Regions from separate parts of the Homo sapiens genome. Here region 2 is linked to region 1. The links come from fine-mapping of genetic effects on gene expression. A gene starts in region 1. The other region holds a variant in brackets. All regions are shown on one strand. Distances are between the middles of the regions.

What was found. PIP is the estimated chance that this variant, and not a neighbour inherited with it, causes the effect.
Region 2: its variant is the best candidate, but not a certain one, in a credible set for the expression of SAMM50 in blood mononuclear cells (TOPMed, PIP 0.79).

Annotation. Positions count from the first base shown.
Region 1 is chr22:43,952,724-43,958,235 of GRCh38, forward strand. SAMM50 (SAMM50 sorting and assembly machinery component) reads left to right here and starts at 2,719. Exons shown (of 15, transcript NM_015380.5): 1 at 2,719-2,875. The coding sequence starts at 2,855. It also overlaps the pseudogene RPL35AP36. RefSeq lists enhancers at 1,944-2,696, 2,364-2,413, 2,494-2,573, 2,697-3,448, 3,254-3,463 and a silencer at 2,537-2,811.
Region 2 is chr22:43,987,967-43,992,966 of GRCh38, forward strand. SAMM50 (SAMM50 sorting and assembly machinery component) reads left to right here. Exons shown (of 15, transcript NM_015380.5): 13 at 1,145-1,291; 14 at 2,299-2,440. Among named protein-coding and RNA genes, the nearest start is that of PARVB, 34 kb to the right of the region's middle. The variant C/T (reference allele first, on the strand shown) is at 2,435.

The sequences.
Region 1 (5,512 bases):
TTGACCTCCTGGGCTCAAGCAATCCTCCTCCTTCAGCTTCCTGAGGAGGTTTTAATTAAATAAATTAAAAGCTAATTAAAAACATTTTTTTTTTTTTTTGGTAGAGATGGGGTCTCACTGTTTTCCAGGCTGATCTTGAACTCCTGGACTCAAGCAATCCTCTTGCTTCAGCCTCTGGAGTAGCTGGGACTACAGGTGCTTGCTACTATGCCCAGCTATTTTTTTTATTTTTTATTTTTATTTTGTAGTGATGGGGTGTGTTTCCTAGGCTGATCTTGAACTCCTGGGCTCAAGCAATCCTCCTGCCTCGGCCTCCCAAAGTGCTGAGATTATAGGTATGAGCCATTGCACTCAGCCTGGATTGTATTAAGGAAACTAGCTTAGTCACTAAACTGCACTTCTACTTCTGATTGGACAAGATTGGCACTTTGTAAACCAGGTTTTCTGGGATGCTGGTTTCCTTGAAGATGTTTCTAGCTGGTATTATCATATAGGATAGGCTGAGTTATGCTGCATTAACAAGCAAAACCCAAAAGGTTTATTTCTCATTCGTGCTGTATGTCCAGCAAATGTGGCTGGGCTTCATTTTAAGTCGTCCTCACTCCCAGACCTAGCCTGTAGGTGCCCCACCATTGGGGGATCGCTGATTGCCATGGCATGGTTAGAGAAATATGGTTCTTAAAGGTTCTCATCCAGAGTGGCACATCTCTCTTCTGCTCACAATGTGTTGACCAAAGCAAGTCACATGGATGGGAGCAGGGAGATGCAATCCTCTCTTGTGCCCAAAAGAGGAGCACAAGAAATACTGTTGAATAGCATTGCCAGAGGCCACAGAAAAATCTCCAAAACCAAAAATCTCTATGACCCAATAAATTCAAGAAATACTGGGTTAAAGAGAAGGAAACCAGTATATGCACTGTGAGACTTCTCAGTCTTTATTATATACATTGTAACCATCACAGACAGCCTTTAATATATACATCTTAACTATCACAGACAGCCTTCAGTATATTATATACATTATAACCATCACAGACAGCCTTCAATATATTATATACATTATAACCATCACAGACAGCCTTTAATATATACATTATAACTATCACAGCCTTTAATATATTATGTACATTGTAACTATCACAGCCTTTAATATATTATATACATTGTAACTACCACCGCCTTTAATATAGTATACCCATTGTAACTATCACAGCCTTTAATATACACATTGTTAACTACCACAGACAGCCTTTAATATATTATATACATTGTAACTATCACAGATAGCCTTTAATATATACATTGTAACTATCGCAGACAGCCCTTTGTTTGAGGGTAAAGCATGTGACTTTGTTTTCCTCCTGTTCCCTCTGCCATCCTCCAGGGCCTCACACACAATAGGCTCTCAAATATTGCAACCATCTTGCACTCTGCAGGGCAACCTCATGGCTTATCCTTTACAAGTGGCATACTCAGAAGAATAACGAGGAAGAAAGTGTAAGAAAAGAGGGCTGTTTGGGCAAAGAAAATCTGGTTGATTCGATGTTTACAGAGTGCCAGGCCCCATGCTTGATCTCATGAGGTCCTCAGACCTTATGCCTTAGGCTATCATTTCCATTTTACAGATAAGGAATTGAGGCTCAGGGAACTGAGAGTGAGGGAAGGGCAGGGGCCTGGCTGGTGCTGGGTTCTGTCTCTTTCCAGGCAAGAAGGGACATGTGGACTTGAATATTTAGCTCAGGGATGTTGGAGGCCTAGGGTGCTGCTATTTAAATGGAAAGGGTGTCAGGGTTTCTGGGAGGGAGTAAGGGGACAGAAGAAAAGATGCTTCTGTTATCAGAAGGGAGTGGCAACGTGACAGGATACTGAAGCTTCCTCTTTTCTTATTCTGTCTCGTTTCTTTCAATATACTTATCACAATGTGTGGCTGATATTTATTATGCCTTTTTCTTTTCTATTCTCTTTTCTTTTTTGGGGCAGGGGAGCTGTTTTGCCACCAAAACCTAAGCCCATGGCCGTCTTCTTCACCGATATGACTGGTTCTCATGCAAGCACCTAGATGGCCCTCGCCCATAATTACTGGCTGCAGTTGAGTGAATAGCGGTCATTATCTAGCGCCCACCGTGTGCCCGGCCCGGTGCCGGGAGCTTTGCTTTCCGTCTCTCACATTAGGCCCTTTTAATCCAACCCCCAAGAAGGAGACACGACCATCGTCTTCATTTTGACGATTTTGAGTGGGGGTTCCAATGACTTGAACGAAAGGAGCCAGGGCACCAATCCGGGTTTGTGTAGCAGATGCCGGTGAGACCCGACTACTGCAGCTCGGGGGTGGCCGGACCCGGGGTCTCCCCGCTGAGTCTCGGGGCTTCACCGGCGCGTGGGCACAAGCACAGCACCCTCGGGTCGGGGGTGCTAGGAGGGCTAAGAGCAGCAGGACTTGAGTGACACCCAACAGCTGGTCTGATCTCTTTCAGGCGCCAACGCCAGACGCCAGCCTCCCAGCGGACCCTCTCGCAGACCCACCTTCACCCCACGCGCCCTCCCCACACAGTCCACGCGCCAGCAGCTTCGCGGATGTCAGTGAACGCTCTTCGCTTGCGCAGTCAGAACGTCCTCCGCGGCCGTGTGAACATCCGGGTCACAGGCGCATAAGGACCAATGAGCGAAGGCATCGCGAGCCAGGGGGCGCGGAGAAGGCGGGGAATCATGGCCGCCCCCAGTGTTCCGCGTCCGGGGGTTTGTGGGAGTTGCCTTGACCTGCAGCTCCGCCACCGCGGACCCGCCTTCTGCCCTCAGCAGCAGACGCTCTGTCCCGCCCGGGCAGCTCTGCGAGGCAGCGGCTGGAGAGGGAACCATGGGGACTGTGCACGCCCGGGTAAGAGGCCCAGCGACCCGCGGGCTGCGAGGCCTCTGGGCCAGCAGGGCAGACGGGCGCCGCGGGGAGACGCTCTCGTGGCTGCGCCCAGGGTTCACCGGGAGAGAGGGTGCCAAGGGTGCCGGGCTGGGTGGAGGAGGCCGAAAAGAGGTCGCCTCGGGCCAGCGAGTCTTGCAGACCTTCGAGCAGGAACCTGATAGGAGGGACGAGACTTGGCTAAAGGTCACTCGGCGAGTCCGTGGCCCAAAGGACTTGCCAACTTTCTGTGATGTCTTAGACCGCAGTGAATGTGCTCTTTCTTTGCATGATTTTAAGTTTTCTCTCTTTACTGGTCACTTCCAGCCTTTCCCCGCTCAGCCGCTGCTGGAGCCATTGTAGGCTCCTAGAGCAACAAGAATCCTTTGAAGTCTTCTAACTCAAACCTATCTAGGGGTCCTCTTTTCTCCTGTCTACCGTGCAAAAGACGGAACCGCTCTCTGCCTTACTTCCTGTTTTAAAGTGGAGGTAGTAATAGTACCTACCTCGCCTGGCTTAAAAGAGAATTAAAAGACAATGCATGTGAATACTTGGGTGCCTGGCGCCTGACTAACTGTACTGGTTGCCAAACTCCTCTCGTTTATCCTAATCTTAAATAAGGGCCAGATAATGAGTTACTTCTCCAAGGTCACATAGTTACTGGTTCCAAATGGCCTAAAACCTCAGATTTCCTGAGTCTCAGCCCCAACACTACTTTTCTACTGCAACTTTGATTGCTTCACTTGACCTGCATAGACGTTTTCAGTAGTTCCCCATTAACTTCCAAAAAAATTTAGCACAGAAGTCGCAGCCTGACATCGATAATTGGACTTAACTTCCCTTTATATGTCTTTCATTCAGATCAAACACCGTTTCTCTTCTGACATCTCTTTGTGTAACTGTAATAGGTCTGTTGCTCAGTGTGCTCGATAAGTCAATACACTCAGACAGTGGGTTGCAGCAGAGAAAGAGTTTCAGTTGCAGGGCCGCTGAACGAGGAGATGGGAAAAGAGAGGAAACCTCAAATCCATCTCCTTCAGGAGTTTGGACCTCATGTTTTTGCTGAAGTGTGGAGATCCTTGATTGGTGGAAGAGTGAAGGGTGAAGTTATGGGACAGGGAGATGAGGAAACTTCTCATGCTGATTCCGTTCCTCTGTTGCGGGGAGGAGTCTTCAAACTGGTTGGCAGCATCAGTTTTGCTGGAATTCGAGATCTGAAAAACATCTAAAGCAACTCTTAAGCAAAAGCCTTATGATTCTAATTTTAGAAATCCTATCTGTAAAATCAATGGGGATGCAAATAGTATCTGTGACTTTTGGTTACTAGCAAGTAGGTCAGAGTGCAACCTGAGCTCTTCCTGCCATCTTGGCTCCTGTGGCGGCCTGCCGGGAGCAGGACTTCTGAAAGGAAATATGTCTGGAAGGCTGTGGTCCAAGGCCATTTTTGCTGGCTATAAGTGGAGTCTCCGGAACCAAAGGGAGCACACAGCTCTTCTTAAAATTGAAGGTGTTTATGCCCGAGATGAAACAGAATTCTATTTGGGCTCATGTATACAAAGCAAAGAACAACATAGTGACTCCTGGCGGCAAATCAAACAAAGCCAGAGTAATCTGGGGAAAGGTAACTCGGGCCCACAGAAACAATGGCATGATTCGTGCCAAATTCTGAAGCAATCTTCCTGCTAAGGCTGTTGGACACAGAATCCGAGTAATGCTGTACCCCTCAAGGATTTAAACTAATGAAAAGTCAATAAATCAATGTGGATTTGTGCTCTTGAAAAAAAAAAGGCAACTTGATTAATGGTTAATTGTAACTACATTTCTTTTGAGATGGAGTCTCACTGTGTTGCCCAGGCTGGAGTGCAATGGTGCAATCTCCACTCACTGCAACCTCCGCCTCCCAGGTTCAAGCGATTCTCCTGCCTCAGCCTCCCATGTAGCTGGGATTATAGGCGCACGCCACCACACCCAGCCAATTTTTGTATTTTTAGTAGAGACGGGGGTTTCATCATGTTGGCCAGGCTGGTCTTGAACTCCTGACCTCAAGTGATCATCCCGCCTCGGCCTCCCAAAGTGCTGAGATTACAGGTGTGAGCCACTGCGCCCAGCCAATTATAACTACATTTCTGTCCAGATGTCCAGAATAATTTTTTTTGTTGTTGTTGAGACAGAGTCTTGCTCTGTGCCCAGGCTGGAGTGCAGTGGCACGGTCTTGGCTCACTGCAAGCTCCACCTCCCAGATTCACACCATTCTCCTGCTTCAGCCTCCTGAATAGCTGGGACCACAGGCGCCTGCCACCATGTTCGGCTAATTTTTTGTATTAGTAGAGACGGGGTTTCACTGTTAGCTAGGATGGTCTCGATCTCCTGACCTTGTGATCCGCCTGCCTCGGCCTTCCAAAGTGCTGAGATTACAGGCATGAGTCACCACGCCTGGCCTTTGTCCAGAATTCTTGTTAGCCCTGTGAGGATGGCTTTATTTGGACCGCACTATTGCACTTCATTCCCCCTCCCATCATCCATCTTTAGCATCAAAATATTCCCATCTTTTAGAACTCCGTTCTGAAAGTTCTTTATCCCCTGCATTTGGATGGGCTTCGCCTTTCCGTGCCATTTCCTTTG
Region 2 (5,000 bases), 35 kb after region 1:
ATTTGGTTTTACATTTACATTATAATCCACTGGAAGAAAGGACATCAGGATGTTAGCTGTTTATTTCTGAATGGTAGAAATTAAAATATTTTCATTTTTTTCTCTTTATGTTGATCAGATGTTCTACAATGAGTATATTTAACTTTTATGTTCAGAATAAAATCAGTTATTTAAGAAGAGAGAGGAGGAGTGGTTTCTGGGAAACAAAAAACAAGGTTGTTCTCCTGCAATTTGTTCATTCTCTGTTCCCATCAGAGCTCTCGTGTTGAAAGGGATTAAGGAGATGTTGGTGTCTTTTTTTTCCTTCCTCTGGATTGTGAGGAACTGAAGTCTTTAAATGAATCAGCAGTTCATTCCTTGAAGTTAGTCTTGAAGACATCAGTATTTTCCCATTTCATGGTCTGTCATTTTGTATTAGAGGAGAGTAAGACACTGTATAAATGGTATTTTGCAACAAAGTATAAACCTTTGGGTTGTATGTTTTCTGTTGCTTTATAGTTTAAAATGGAATGGACAGGAACGTTTTTAGAAATATGCAAATACATGCTCTCAGTGGATAGGCTTACACTTTGGCAAAAGTAACCTAAATCCAAGCGGTCATGAACCGTTGAGAATTGTCTCTTCTCTGGAGACACTGAGCTGGAACCTGGTCTCGCTGTGCAGTGGGTGGCAGGCAGCCTCTGCCTTTTGATTAATCATGTGCAGCTGTCTCCACACACTGCAGAGACGCTTTCTGCATTTTGTCTCTATTGCGCTCTCGAAAATTTGGCAAAATAATGCATTTCATTTGCAGGTGGAAGTGAGTTGGTCATCTACATTTGTGGATAAAGTTATTGTCATGAGACTCATTTCTTCAAAGCATTTCACAGATACGATGAATGACAGAGTGCATTCCTTCCTCAACGACATTGGCTTTGTTTGCCTCCTCAGTTAAATCAAGGTGTGAAACAAACCAGGAGAAAAAGAAAGATTATTTAAAATGAGGCCATCAGTATCAGGAATGAGAAGAACAGCTGCTTGCAAACTCCAGCACTGTGTGGCGTTGTTTACAGGACAGAAATCTTGCTTCTGTAAGTTGTGGAAAGTTAACGTGATGTTAACCTTGTCGGACCTTGTTTTTGTTCTGCACCCCTCCTTTGCTTAGGAGACTACCTAGGTGGAGAAGCGTACTGGGCCGGCGGCCTGCACCTCTACACCCCATTACCTTTCCGGCCAGGCCAGGGTGGCTTTGGAGAACTTTTCCGAACACACTTCTTTCTCAACGCAGGAAACCTCTGCAACCTCAACTATGGTAAAACTTGCGCTATTCAAGAAACCATTGTAGTACAGTTGTTTTCATGTTTAAAAGCACAGTACACAAAGAGGTGTCTGTCTTTTTTTTTTTTTTTTGAGATGGAGTCTCGCTCTATTGCCAGGCTGGAGTGCAGTGGCGCAATCTCGGCTCACTGCAACCTCCACCTTCTGGGTTCAAGTGACTCTCTTGCCTCAGCCTCCCGAGTAGCTGGGACTACAGGCGCGTGCCATCACGCCCGGCTAATTTTTTGTATTTTTAGTAGAGACGAGATTTCACCATGTTGGCCAGGATGGTCTCGATCTCTTGACCTCGTGATCCACACCCCCCTTGGATTCCCAAAGTGCTGGGATTACAGGTGTGAGCCACCGTGCCAGGCCATGTCTGTCTTTTTAGATTACATAGTCATTAAAGTTAGAGACTGTGCCTTACTTGAAAAAAATTCTTACAACAGCTAACATAATGCCCAGCATTAAGTGGTTGGTTGAGCGAATGAAGCATACAAGAAAAATAATCATCTAATGCCCTTACGAAGAAAAATCTGTTTGTCTATTTAATAAACAAGTCATGATGGCCACAGAGCTGAGTAGGATTGGGTGCCTTCCTCAGGGAGTTCAGGTCCAGAAGAGACTCCCAGCAGATGCCTGGGTGCTAGGGGTGCCTGGAAAGCTTCCTAGAAGGCATGGAAGTCTCCAAGCTGAGACTCAGAGTGGGGCTTCCCAGGTGGTCAGGGGATGGGGAAAAGTCATTCTAAGCAGAGGGAACAGAATATGCCAGGCCCAAAGAATTGAGAAGGCGTGGCTCATTCTGGATGTGAGTAAGTGTGGCTCCAAGTCCTCTCTTGACCTGGGTCCTAATCTCACTTCATGCATCCTCCCTAATCTCTAGGCCTGGCTTTAAAAACAACTGCAGGGCCCAGCCAGGGGGAGCCAGGGCTTGTCTGGGAGAGCTGGGAGAGCTTGGAAGGACGGGCACGCACTGTTGCTCACAGGTCTTTCTCTTTTCAGGGGAGGGCCCCAAAGCTCATATTCGTAAGCTGGCTGAGTGCATCCGCTGGTCGTACGGGGCCGGGATTGTCCTCAGGCTTGGCAACATCGCTCGGTTGGAACTTAATTACTGCGTCCCCATGGGAGTACAGACAGG[C/T]GACAGGTACGTGTTGGGAATTATTTTCCACAATCACATCCCACTCTCCAGTAATTTTATTTTGTTTTGGACGTGGTTAATTTCATTAGTGGCTTTTAAGCTTGAAGATTTTAAGAGAATTAAATAGTTGCAAAATAATGAAAACACATGTATTTTCCTCCTTTGCGTTTTTCTCCATCTAGCTGGGAGGAGCAGGTGTGAAGCGTTCCCACCCCCTCCCTCAGGTGCTTTGTGCTTATTGTTCCCAGGGTAGTGGGAGCCCCTGCCAGGGTCTGGCTGGAGGAATTGACAGGTGATTTGGTTCCTGTGTGCTGAAAACAGAAGGCAGTGTTTTGAGCAGTTGACTTTGCAGGCCAGGGTCTCTAGGAAAGTTGGGGTGAGTGAAGCTTTGTTCCTGACCACAGAGGACACGATCTTGAGAACCCCTCTCTCTACAGCAGAGGAACCCACCTTCTTGGCTTTTCTTCACCCCTTATTTTATTGAGGAAAGATTCCCTAAATGTTACATGGGTGAATATGGTATAGGGCTAGTTACACAGTTATATAAACAAATTCTATTTCTTACATGCATTGTGTAAAATTTTTTTTTTTTTTGAGACAGACTCTCATTCTGTCGCCCAGGCTGGTGTGCAATAGCACGATCTTGGCTCACTGCAACCTCTGCCTCCCAGGTTCAAGAGATTCTCCTGCCTCAGCCTCCTGAGTAGTTGGGATTACAGGCATGCGTCACCACACCCGGCTAATTTTTTGTATATTTAGTAGAGACAGGGTTTCACCATGTTGGTCAGGGTGGTGTCAAACTCCTGACCTCGTGATCTGCCTGCCTCAGCCTCCCAAAGTGCTGGGATTATAGGCATGAGCCACCACGCCCGGCATTTTTTTTTTTTTTTTTTTTTGAGACTCGGTCTTTCTCTGTCACCCAGCTGGAGTACAATGGCCTGACCATGGCTCACTGCAGCCTTGACCTCCTGGGCTCAAGTGATCCCCCTGCCTCAGCCTCCCAAGTAGCTGGGACTACACACCAGGCTAATTTTTGTATTTTTTGTAGAGACAGGGTTTTACCACATTGCCCACCCAGGCTGGTCTTGAATTCCTGGGCTCAAGCCATCTGCCCGCATTGGCCTCCCAAAGTACTGGGATTACAGGTATGAGCCACCGCACCCAGCTGCGTTGTGTAAATTTTAAGAGATTCAGACGTGTTTTCATTATAGTGTATCTCGGTCAGCTCAGGCTGCCATCACAAAATACCATGGAGTATTTAAGAGTGACTTAAACAACAGATGTTCATACTCTGCCAGTTCTGGAGGTTGGAAAGTCCAAGATCAGGGTGCTGGCAGATTTGGTTGCTGTTGGGTTCTCTTCTTGGCTCGCAGATGGCAGCCTTGCCACTGTGTCCTCACTTGGAGGAGGAAGAGTGCAGGCCAGTGCCCCGATGCCTCTTCTTATGCGGCCCCTAATTCCATCACGAGGGCCCCATCTTCGTTACCTCGTCTGCACCTCAGCACCTCCCAAAGGCCTGCCTCCAGGTATCAACACCATCCTGTCAGGGTTAGGGCTTCAGCATGTGAATCTTGTGGGGACATGAATGTTCAGTCCACAACAGTGTTCATACTGTCTCTTATTTTTGTATATGCATTCACAGCACCCCAGCCTGTTTTTTCTCTTCATTTTTGTGTCTACCTTTATGTTGCCACCAAATGGTGGTGCTGTTGGAGGCTTAACCCGGTTTCAAATAGGTTGTAGTTTGTGCCAGTTGAAGGAAATGCTGTATCATTTTTACTCTCTCCGTCTTCCGCATCAGCATGTAGGGGATGGTGCTTTGTAAAGGGGAGCCGCATTCGCAAGTGTTTCTGAGCATCGCCTCTCAGGTGCAGTCTGCGTCTGTCATTCAGGTCCTTTACGGTTATTGCTTCAGCGGAATCTGCTCCTTACACTCTTGCCAGAAGGCCCTTCAGCATCTGCTCCGCGTCTGGGGACACGGCAGGGGCTGCCAGGCTGCTGCGGCTCCCTACTGATGACAGGGCCTTCAGAGATGGCGGCGGCTGCTCCCACAACCGCCAGCTCCCATTCCCCTCCACGCCTCTCCTGTTCTCCACACAAAGCCCAAGCTGGAAAGGGTGTAGTCACGCAGGCTGCATGCATGTGTGCCTGGGGGCCCAGCTACCCGGGCTTGGGGCCCAGCTTGGCCACTCTGTGTGACTGTGTGGCCCGGGGTGAGTCACAAAACCTCTCTGGGTGTCCATTTTCATGCCCAGAGGATGGACGATCATGATGGTGACTGTTGCAGTTTGGAGAACTCAGTGAGTTACTGCATGCAGAGCCCTTGGCGCACCGCCTGGCCTGGGGTTGGGAAGTGGTTATTTTTCCTGGGCTGCTCTGCTGCTGATACACCCGGCGTGGCCAGCCCCTCACACAAGGGAACAGGTTCCTGTGGGAGGTGTTGCCCCTCCCCCTCCACATCATCTCAGCTAACAGTTTGTGACAAGCCATAGATGGGATGATGCATCCTGATTTTGGAGATAATAAAGTGAAAAAGTGGGCACCTTTTTCCAGAGCGAGACTGCAT